Linked DNA regions of Homo sapiens. The protein of the gene in region 2 interacts with the protein of the main gene of each other region in a pairwise test. Each region holds a gene or a part of one and is shown on either strand. Other genes may lie near its edges.

What was found. The genes of interacting proteins can lie anywhere in the genome.
Region 1: the proteins of DDX42 (region 2) and DHX15 interact in a two-hybrid assay, tested with the Homo sapiens proteins (one large-scale study listed by BioGRID and IntAct).

Annotation. Positions count from the first base shown.
Region 1 is NC_000004.12:24,574,056-24,579,047, forward strand, and holds part of DHX15 (ATP-dependent RNA helicase DHX15), read right to left. Parts: intron 2,624-4,992; coding exon 2,188-2,623; intron 1-2,187.
Region 2 is NC_000017.11:63,811,513-63,816,504, reverse strand, and holds part of DDX42 (ATP-dependent RNA helicase DDX42), read right to left. Parts: intron 4,574-4,992; coding exon 4,297-4,573; intron 3,278-4,296; coding exon 3,051-3,277; intron 943-3,050; coding exon 832-942; intron 1-831. UniProt on the Homo sapiens protein: ATP-dependent RNA helicase that binds to partially double-stranded RNAs (dsRNAs) in order to unwind RNA secondary structures. Unwinding is promoted in the presence of single-strand binding proteins.

The DNA.
Region 1 (4,992 bases), on a different chromosome or scaffold from region 2:
AATAGCCAGGCATGGTGGTGCGCGCTTGTAGTCCCAGCTACTCAGGAGGCTGAGGCAGGAGAATCACTTGAACCCAGGAGGAGGAGGTTGCAGAAAGCCAAGATCATACCACTGCACTCCAGCTTGGGTGACAGAGCGAGACTTTGTCTCAAAAAAAAAAAAAAAAAAAAAAAGTTAAAGTCATTACTTTAGATTTTGTTTAGAGAATTTTTCTGACAAGAACAAATCACCAAAAAAAGACTGGCTTTAATGGTTTGAGTCAAAGTTTAATAAGAGCATGCTAGGAAACATTTGAATGAAATTCACTTTTTAAACTGTTTGGTTTCCCTTCAAATCCCCCAGATGTGCTGCAATCCTCAGTATCCAAGTATCTTAATTACCCCTCTAAAAGTTAAATATTAATCCAAATAATCACAAACCTCATCTTGAGTTGACCTGACCTCCTTCTACACTAACCATTAATAAACTCATCTCTGAAATGAGGCTACCCATAATCAGACCACAGAATAGCAGTATGAAATATAAAACTTTAGATATAAAGACAAAAGGTACAAAGTTTTAAATATTGAGCCCACCAAAATCCATAATCCATGTAACCCAGGACAATCCACTAAACCTAAGTTTCTCATAAACTTAAACCTCATTTTGCTCATCTGTAAAGTGGTGATGAATATCTTCCTGCAGGGTTATAGAAAAACGTAAATGAGCTAATACATGTAAAGTATACAGTGTCTGGCTTTACCCAAATATCAATTAAATAGTAAGTTCAGAGTTACAGTCTTTCTTGTAGTTTGAAAATTCTTAAAATTTCCGTAAGGTGATTTTTGAATACCCTAACATCAATTCTAAGTTTTCCTTCATTAAAAAAGAAAAATTGGCAAGGCTAAGGCAGGAGGATTGCTTTAGCTCAGGAGTTCAAAACCTCAACTCTACAAAAATTTTATTTAAAAATTAGCCAGGCACTGGTGGCATATGCCTGTGATCCCAGCTACTTGGGAGGCTGAGGCAGGAGGATCGCTTCAGCTCAGGAGGTTGACGCTGTGTTCATACCACTGCACTCCAGCATGGGTGAAAGACTGTCTCAACAACAACACAAAAATTAAAAAAAAAAAAAAGAAAAGAAAAGAAGAATGGTACTAAGGCTCAGTCTATAATAAAAGCTTCCTATTTTGGTTGCTACAGTACCTTCAAAATGTCTCCATGCACATGTAACTTTAGAAAAAGATAAATTGTGTATGCGGTATGTTCAATCTCTGCATGGTAAGACAGGTAATTCACTTCAATACTTTCCTGAATTTTTCAAAGTTTCTACAATGATCAGGGACTGCTACTTTTGAAACCAGAAATTTTTAATTGATGGTTCAGGCTTAAGTGTATAAAGACAGTTACTTCTCACCCACAGCAAGAAAATGCAAATTAAAAAGTACATTAGAATGCAATTTTTCACCTATTGGATTTGTAAAAATTCACGTTTTAATAGTTTCCCACGTGTTCTCCTACATGCTCATGGAAAGGTAAATTGATACGCTCCCTCTGGAAGGCTATCCAGCTTTCTGTATCACAATTACAAATGATCTTCTGACCCAGCAATTTCTGCTTCCTACAGAAACACTTGACCCATGCAAAACAACCATGGGAAACAGTCTAAATGTCTATCAACAGGGGTCTAGTTAATAATAGCCCATCCATGTTTAAAAAATATCCTAGCTATATTACAAATAACACACTAGTAACAGTGTTTAGTTCTATGGGAGGGAGGACGACTAGATGGACAAAAGTCACCGGTATAGACTTTATATTACTTTGGCATTTCATTTTTTGCATGGTTCAAAATACCATATTAAATACAAACGACAAAAATCTACCCCAGTGATTTCTCCACCCAAGTACCAGAAAACAAACTGTGGGTCCCTAAATCTGTACTGTCCGGGAGTCAAAATACCTCTGCCATACATAAGGTAACAAAATTTGAAAAGCGAGCACCACTATTTTCCCCTAGATTCAGGGGAGAGGTATTCTCTATAGGATTTCCACTCTGAAATTCAGAGTGCCAATTAAACATCAAATCAGCTATTCTTCAAGATGTTCTATAGGACAGACAAGGGAAATGACCACCAGAATCAAATATGCAACATTTGGTAAACTTAAACATAAATGAAATATGTACCATGGTATACAATAACTCACCTGTGTTGTTTTACCAGACCCAGTCTCACCAACCAGTACAAAGGACTGATGTCTAACCAGAATATCTGTAAACCTATCCTTGTATTCCCAAACAGGGAGCTGAAGACGTTTCTTTAGAATATCATAGTATCGAGGAGTATGGGGTAAGTTGGTGAACGGATTAATGCACTGTGGAAGTGACGTGTGACCTGCATGTCCGGCATGCGTTGAATGAGCAGAATGTGTTGAATGCGTTGAATGTGCTGAGTGGGTTGAGTGAGCTGAATGGGAAGCTTTCAAAGGTGGTAATCCAGCACTGATAAGCATAGCATTTGTTGAAGCTCGCAACTCCTTCTCCTTTTCTTTCTCCCTCTCTCGCTCTCTATCTCCTCTATCACGTTCTCGGTCTCGATCTTTAGACCGATCTTCACGATCCCGGTCTCGATCTCGATCCTTCCTAAAAACAAAAATTTAGAATTCAGATTCTGAATTTTATGCAGAATGTTCACGGTAGCGTTATAATCACAAAGAGAGTAAATGTCCAACGTTCAAATGAATAAAAAGTCCAATGGATTATGTAACTATCAGAAATAATAAAAAATACCCTACAATCAAGGGTTTCCCATTCTCCACCACAAACATCTTTCCCTTCCTTGCTGATGCCCCACCTTCCTTAACTTTTAACATTAGGTGAGGTAACACAAGAACTCAGTCTGCTGCAAGTAAAACCCCTCCTACTTAGACAACAGAAATCAGATACTGAGGGTAGGATGAAGAAAGGATAGGTCCAAATTGAGTAAAAGAAGATGGCATCTCAATCTTTCTCAAATTCTCCTTCAATTTGTGAAGAGGTATTTTGTGCACTAAAAGTATATTCAGAAGTTAGCACAAACACTGCTACTGGAGATAAAGACAACTCCACCTCACATCATTACAGTCAACAGTGGTGGGTTTTGCTCAATACTTTTATAATCCACTTCTAATAAATTACTTTAATATTCCTTTCTTTGCCATAGGACGATGTTCGGTTGTAATGCAAAGTGAAAAGAGCATAGTACAATGTTATACCTGTCAATATCTCAACTAATACAAATACGAATTACAGGACTGCAGAATTTGTTTTCTTAGTTATACTTTCCAGCACTTTCCCAATTTTGTTCAGTAAATGTATATTGCTTTATTAAAAAAACTGAAATTAAAACTTTTATTCCTTCTTGCTTGTTTACTCTTGCATTTTAACCTAAACAGCAACAGCAAAACACTGAAAGCACTCTATAAATCTATGTACCTTGGTCTACCATAAAATGAAACATAGCCAAATTAAAAATAAGCTTTGCTAAACACTATTAAGTTGTTTAACATGTTAAAATTATGCAGGTAGCCACTCTATTAAACCTGGGTCAATTTTAAGTAGTCAATGCTGGTATCTACTTCCAGTTACTAGAGATTGACCTTAATAAGTCATTTTAAAAGTATCTATGCTAAGAACTTCACAAGCAGAATGGCTGCAGGTTGTTCATATGCGTTGTGGCTGAAAGCAGCCTCTGGGAGACTGGTGGTGGGAATAAAATAAAATAATCTATGCTTGTTCATTTTACTAATCCAGTTTACTTCAGACCAAGTCCATCAGCAGAGAAATTTGCCTCAAGATCTTTAAACCCAGACTTGAAATAATGAGACATGACGGAGCTATGACACAAGCCCCGAAACATGTCATTGTTCCTTACCCACAATACACAAAAGTACAAATTCCCTGTGCTCCAAGTGCAGTTGTGTGACATGTACAAATTTACTCAAAAAGGGGAAAAGCCATATATATGCATATATAAACATGAAAAGTGATTTTCCCCTCTTCCATCCCAATGTTCACCTTCTACAAAAATCACAGAGCATACAAGCCAGAACTGTATGAAGCCTCTCATTTCACCTGGCATAAACAGAAAGAAAATCAATGGGAAAGAAAAGTCAAAGGATAACTTAATAAACATAAAATGAAGTCTCACAATTCAATACTTGAGAGTCTGGACCTATCTTCTGAAATATGCCATCAACTATCTTTGCTTCTCCTGCTTCTGGCCTAAGGTGACTGTTAATTAAGTGTTTACATTGCTCCAAAATGCCAACGAGGTGTAGTTTATAATAAGAGTACACAGAAATGTGCCCAGCAAAGTAAGAAGCACTGTACTCACAAATGGTTCAAATACTTGACACCTTAAAGATCATGGATCATACAGCTAGAAAAGAACTCTTAAAGAACATCTGGTCTGAACAAAAAGGATTCATGTTTCTAGTATTCACTCAACCATGGGGGAAGGAGGAGATGACAAAAAATATAATTGAAACAACTTCCTTTTTTTTGAGATAGGATCTTGCTCCATTACCCGGGTTGGAGTGCAGTGGCTCACTGGATCATGGCTCACTGCAATATCAAACTTCTGGGTTCAAGTGGTCCTCTCACCTCAGCCTCCCGAGTAACTGGGACTACAGGCATGCACCACCACGCCTCGCTAATTTCTTATTTTTGTAGAGATAAGGGTCTCACCATGTTGCCCAGGATGGTTTTCAACTCCTGGGATCAAGCAATCTCTTGCTTCAGCCTCCCAACGTGCTGGGATTACCGATGAGCTACCATGCCCAGCCTAGTTTAATGATTTCTATACTTCTAGCATAGTACCAGGCAATTAAGACATGGTCAAGAGTTACAAAATTTGGGGGAAGAGAGGTGACAAAGTAAATCATGTATTATATATTGCCTTAGTTTGTTAAAGTAATACCTATACTAACAAAGATTTTTTCAGGGGCCCACTTCATCAGATGCTTCATTAC
Region 2 (4,992 bases):
GAAGGGTCTGAATTTCGGCTTGAACACTTGTCACTGTAACCTTAGGTGCCTCAGCATTGTTATCTGTACTAACTTCCATTCAGTTATTTTGAAGATTAACTGAGCCAAAACATCTGATTGCTTGGAATGGTCCTGGCACATATAAAGTGCTCAATAAATATTACCTATTATTATGCATCATCATCATTATTATTATAATGTGGGAACAGAGTATGTAATTACAAAGATGCCAAGTTTAATGCTCCAGAAAAGTATACTGGCAGCTTTCTTCCCTGGCTTGGAATCAAGGTGACAGAAAACAGGCAGTTAAGAAAGGCCACCAAAAGGGTACATTTGTTACCTGGTTTGTGAGAAAAACTAGCTCCCGACTTGGAAATTCCTGATCCGTTCCTGAGTTTAATGACAAGATATGGCTAGACTTTACAGTGACCCTTTGGCAACATTTACCTAGCAGCAGGCTTTAGGCCAGTGTTGAAGGGCTTATAAAACCAGACTGCTGGGCCCCAACTCCAGAGTTTCTGATTCACAAGGTCTGGGGTTGGGGATGAGTTTGCATGTGCTGCTGGTCCAGGGACCACAGTGTGAGATCACTGCTAATCTAGAATAATTTCCTGAGCAAGCCTAGTCAACCAAGTACACAAAGATGCTTCTTCAATAGAAAGTTACCATAAGAATGAGCACTGCATTGACTCAAATCAGATTAAATACAAATTCCCTTCTAGACAGGGCTTTAAACTCACTGAGGCTTTCCTGGGTAGATGAGAATATTCCTAATGACTTTCAGGACATGAGACCAACTATAAAGGCACTACTGTAGTAGTCTAGACTCACCATGTTCTCAGAGCCCAGGCCAGGCCGCTCCCTGTAGCCTAGGCCTCCTCCACCAATGTTCAGCTTTTTTCCTTTCCCTCCTTTGAATCGAGATTTCCGAAACCAGGCATTCTGCATTGAACAAAATTCAAGGTTAAGTCAAGGGAGGGAGAAAAGAACAGAAGAAGAGAACGAGGACAAAGAGGAAATTAAGTGGGAAGGGGGAACTTTTGCTTAATTTTCAGCCAGCACTACGCTAAGGGAGGAATTTTCACAGGAACCACAGATTGGTTTCTCTTTGGTAGCATAATCCACCAAATTTGAAAAGTGGCTGAGATCCTTATCTAAGGCTTCCTACAGTGCTCCCTCCCTCAAGGCTCTCCTGGAAGGGAAGTTGTTCAGGTAAGCTTCAAACCCAGAGGAGTAACTTTGGCTACTTCTAACTTCCTTGAGGAAAATGAGCTTATATTTTATTTCTCAAACCATGTATTATTGGACGTAAACATTTGGAACTTAAACAACTGGTATGTTCAGAAGCAAAGGAAAAATGCTATGTGAAGTGAGGCTTATCAGAACTGACTATAGGGACAGACTCCCAGAAAGGATGGTAGCCACACAACTGAAAATTTTATTTACCCGCAGAGCGTAAAAGTTTTCATTGAACTTGACCATTGCCACTCAACATATTTACTCACATTCTCTTAAGAATGCAGGGCGGTGGCTCACGCCTATGAATCCCAGCACTCTGGAGGCCGAGGTGGGCGGATCACTTGAGGCCAGGAGTCAAGACCAGCCTGACCAACATGGTGAAACCCCGTCCCTACTAAAAATACAAAAATTAGCCAGGCATGGTGGCACATGCCTCTAATCCCAGCTGCTTGGGAGGCTGAGGCAGGAGAACTGTTTGAACCGGAGACGCAGAGGTTGCAGTGAGCTGAGACTGCGCCACTGCACTCCAGCCTGGGTGATAGAGTGTGACTCCATCTCAGAAAAAAGAAAAAAAAAAAAAAAAAAAAAAAGCAAATGTCTCTGGGAAGGTTAAAGTTTTATCTGACAATCACATATTACCAGCAAAATAAAGTGCTTGAGAGGTAGGGCAGCAGGCTTGGACAAAGTCCTGAGCACAGAAAGCCTGAGGTACAAAAAGAAATGGAAGAAAATGCCAAAGTCAAAATGTGTCCTGTTTTAAAAGTTTATTTAGGACTAGCTCTCTGTGCTCAGGAGCAGGGGAGGAAACATTATTCTCTTCTCTCCTGCAGTGCAGGTCCTTTACTCCTAGGACCAGAAACTTGGGCACTGCCACATTGCAGCTGGGTTGTACCAGTTGTGTGAGCTGGCCTAGGCATTTGACAAACTCTTAACAGTTTCTGCTCTCAGAAAGTGTTCCGAACCCATTTGTAATTTGGGGACAGCATGGATTCAGATGACTCCAGGTTTGATTTGTTAGAATGCCTCACTTAGCTTTAGATTGGAGCACACCTGGAAGAGGGCAATCAGTGTGGTCAGAGGTCTGAGATCTCTGCAAGGAACAGTTAAGAGGCACCATACAGGCTGGGCACGGTGGCTCACGCCTGTAATCCTAGCACTTTGGGAGGTTGAGGCCGAGGCGGGCGGATCACCTGAGGTCAGGAGTTCGAGACCAGCCCGACCAACATGGCAAAACCCCATCTCTACTAAAATTACAAAAATTGGCCAGGCGTGGTGGTGGGCGCCTGTAATCACAACTGCTTGGGAGGCTAAGGCAGGAGAATTGCTTGAACCCAGGAGGCAGAGGTTGCAGTGAGCCGAGATCGTGCCATTGCACTGCAGCCTGGGCGATAGAGTGAGATTCTGTCTCAAAAAAAAAAGGTGGGGGGGCACTATACTATACACATATTGTTTTAAAGGCATCACACATTTTTAGCCTCCCAGAAGAAAAATTTTGTGGGGGAAGAGCAGTAAGGAGAATAGTAACCATCTTTGAGATTAAATTTACTCCTAAGTGTGCTATGGGGTAGAAATTACAGCGACAGATTTTAGCACAAAGGAATAGCTTTTCAAAACAGATGCTGTTGAAAGAAGAAGACCAGATAAGACTAGATGAATTTTAGTATCTCACAATTCCTATCTGTACCTCATAAGCCCCACATCCTCCTAGCCACCCAACTTTCTTGTCAAGTTTTTATGTTATCTGTTCCAGGACTGCTAAAATGTCTTGGTCTTATAACCAGGAGCAATTGAAAGTGTGCCCAGCCCCTCACCTGCATTGCCAGATCTAGGAGTTCCTTAGAAACGTGTTGATTGGCTCCTTCCAAGTTCCGGACCAGGTCACCAGCAAAATTGCTGTCCTTGGGAGTGAGTAGGGTATAGGCCACACCTTTCTCACCCGCTCTTCCTGTGCGGCCAATCCTATGCGTGTGGGTATCAATGTCTCGTGCCACATCATAGTTAATGACAGTCTTAATTGAAGGAATGTCCAGACCACGGGCTGAAATAAAAAGCAACCAAATTCTTTTATTCTTCATCTGTAGTCAGAAGATCAAAGTAACCAGAAATGCTAGTGCTAATAAGCCACATTTCCTTTATCTAGGCAAAGCGCATGGGTTTGGTGAGCTGAGATACAGGCATGTTAAGTCACCACCACAGATTCTATGATGTTAGGCCTTCTAGTGTAAGGGACTTTTATTTTTTAGAGACGGAGTCTTGCTCTGTTGCCAGACGGGAGTGCAGTGCCATGATCTCGGCTCACTGCAACCTCCGACTCCCTGGTTCAAGCAATTCTCCTGCCTCAGCTTTCCAAGTAGCTGGGATTATAGGCACGCGCCACCACACCCAGCTAATTTTTGTATTTTTAGTAGAGACGGGGTTTCACTATGTTGGCCAGGATGGTCTCGATCTCCTGACCTCAGGTGATCCGCCCGCCTCCACCTCCCAAAATGCTGGGATTACAGGTGTGAGCCACCGTGCCCGACTGGGACTTTTATCTTTTGCATCAGTAATCTGCCATGCCCTCTTCTCTTGCACTGGGAATATATATTTAAAATGTGTCATGAAGCTGAGAAGTTCTCTCCTTTCTAGGAAAAAATATCAGTGTTTAAGGGTAGTTATTAAAACTTGACAGAACAAATCCAGAAATTATATTCCAAAAACTGTTCTCATCCTGAGTTAAGTTGCCCAACTAAGCTGTGTATAGTAGATCAATGTAAGGGTAAGGTATCTACTATATTCAGACATACAATAAGGGCATTCACTGCCTTTTTTCCCAGAGTGACTTCTAGCTGCAGGGATTCTTTGATTAGAGAGAAATACTAAGTGAAAAGTGGTATCTAGAGCTCCAGACTGTGATCCCTGTGCTGAACTGCTGCTTCCTTGGGGGTTTGGGAGGGGATGGCCAGCCAGGCCAACAGTCTTTCCATCAGCCTGCTCAGATATTATAGGTCTTATGTAGTAAGACAGAGTACCCTTATAGCCTAGGAACTTAATGTTGTTGAAAAATTCATACTCTACCTGCAACATCTGTGGCCACCAGGACTGGGATGTCCTTTTTCTTAAAGTCTGAAATGACCTTGTTTCTCTCACTCTGATCCATATCCCCATGGAGCAGCCCAAGATTATGACCCTCCTGTTTAAGGTTATTCGCTAGCTCTTCAGCATTGGCTTTTTTAGTAACAAAGAGGAGGACACTCCCTGAAGAGGTAAATTCTACCAGACGCCGGGTAAGCCAGTTCCATTTACTAGGTCCAGAATGGAGAATCTCCACAATCTGTGTCACATCTTCATTTGCCTGAGAAGGAAGAAATGAAACAGATGATTGTGACATTGGAGCCACAGGGCACCTGAACAAGGACTAGGCATTATATTTCTACCTGCATCGAGAAGACCTTGAACAATCCCAGTTCTCCTTGGGCCTTCAGCAAGTCAAGTGCAGCTCAAAACTCACCTCTCCTTTCCAATCACCTTGCTCTCCACCTGGTGTACATACCTAATTTGTATGCCCCACTACTTTGTAGAGCTTTCCTTAACAATAACCATGGCAAGCAACTGAAGGATTCTCTAAGCAGCCATAACTGAATTCCAAGTCCCAATTCAGAGTAATTTTTCACATAGCGCATATGTACAGGTAAGAAATGAAACCTGATTTTTTCCAGGCCTTCCAGGTCACCCTTTCCCTCCTGCGTAGGCCCCTACCACAATAATTAAAAC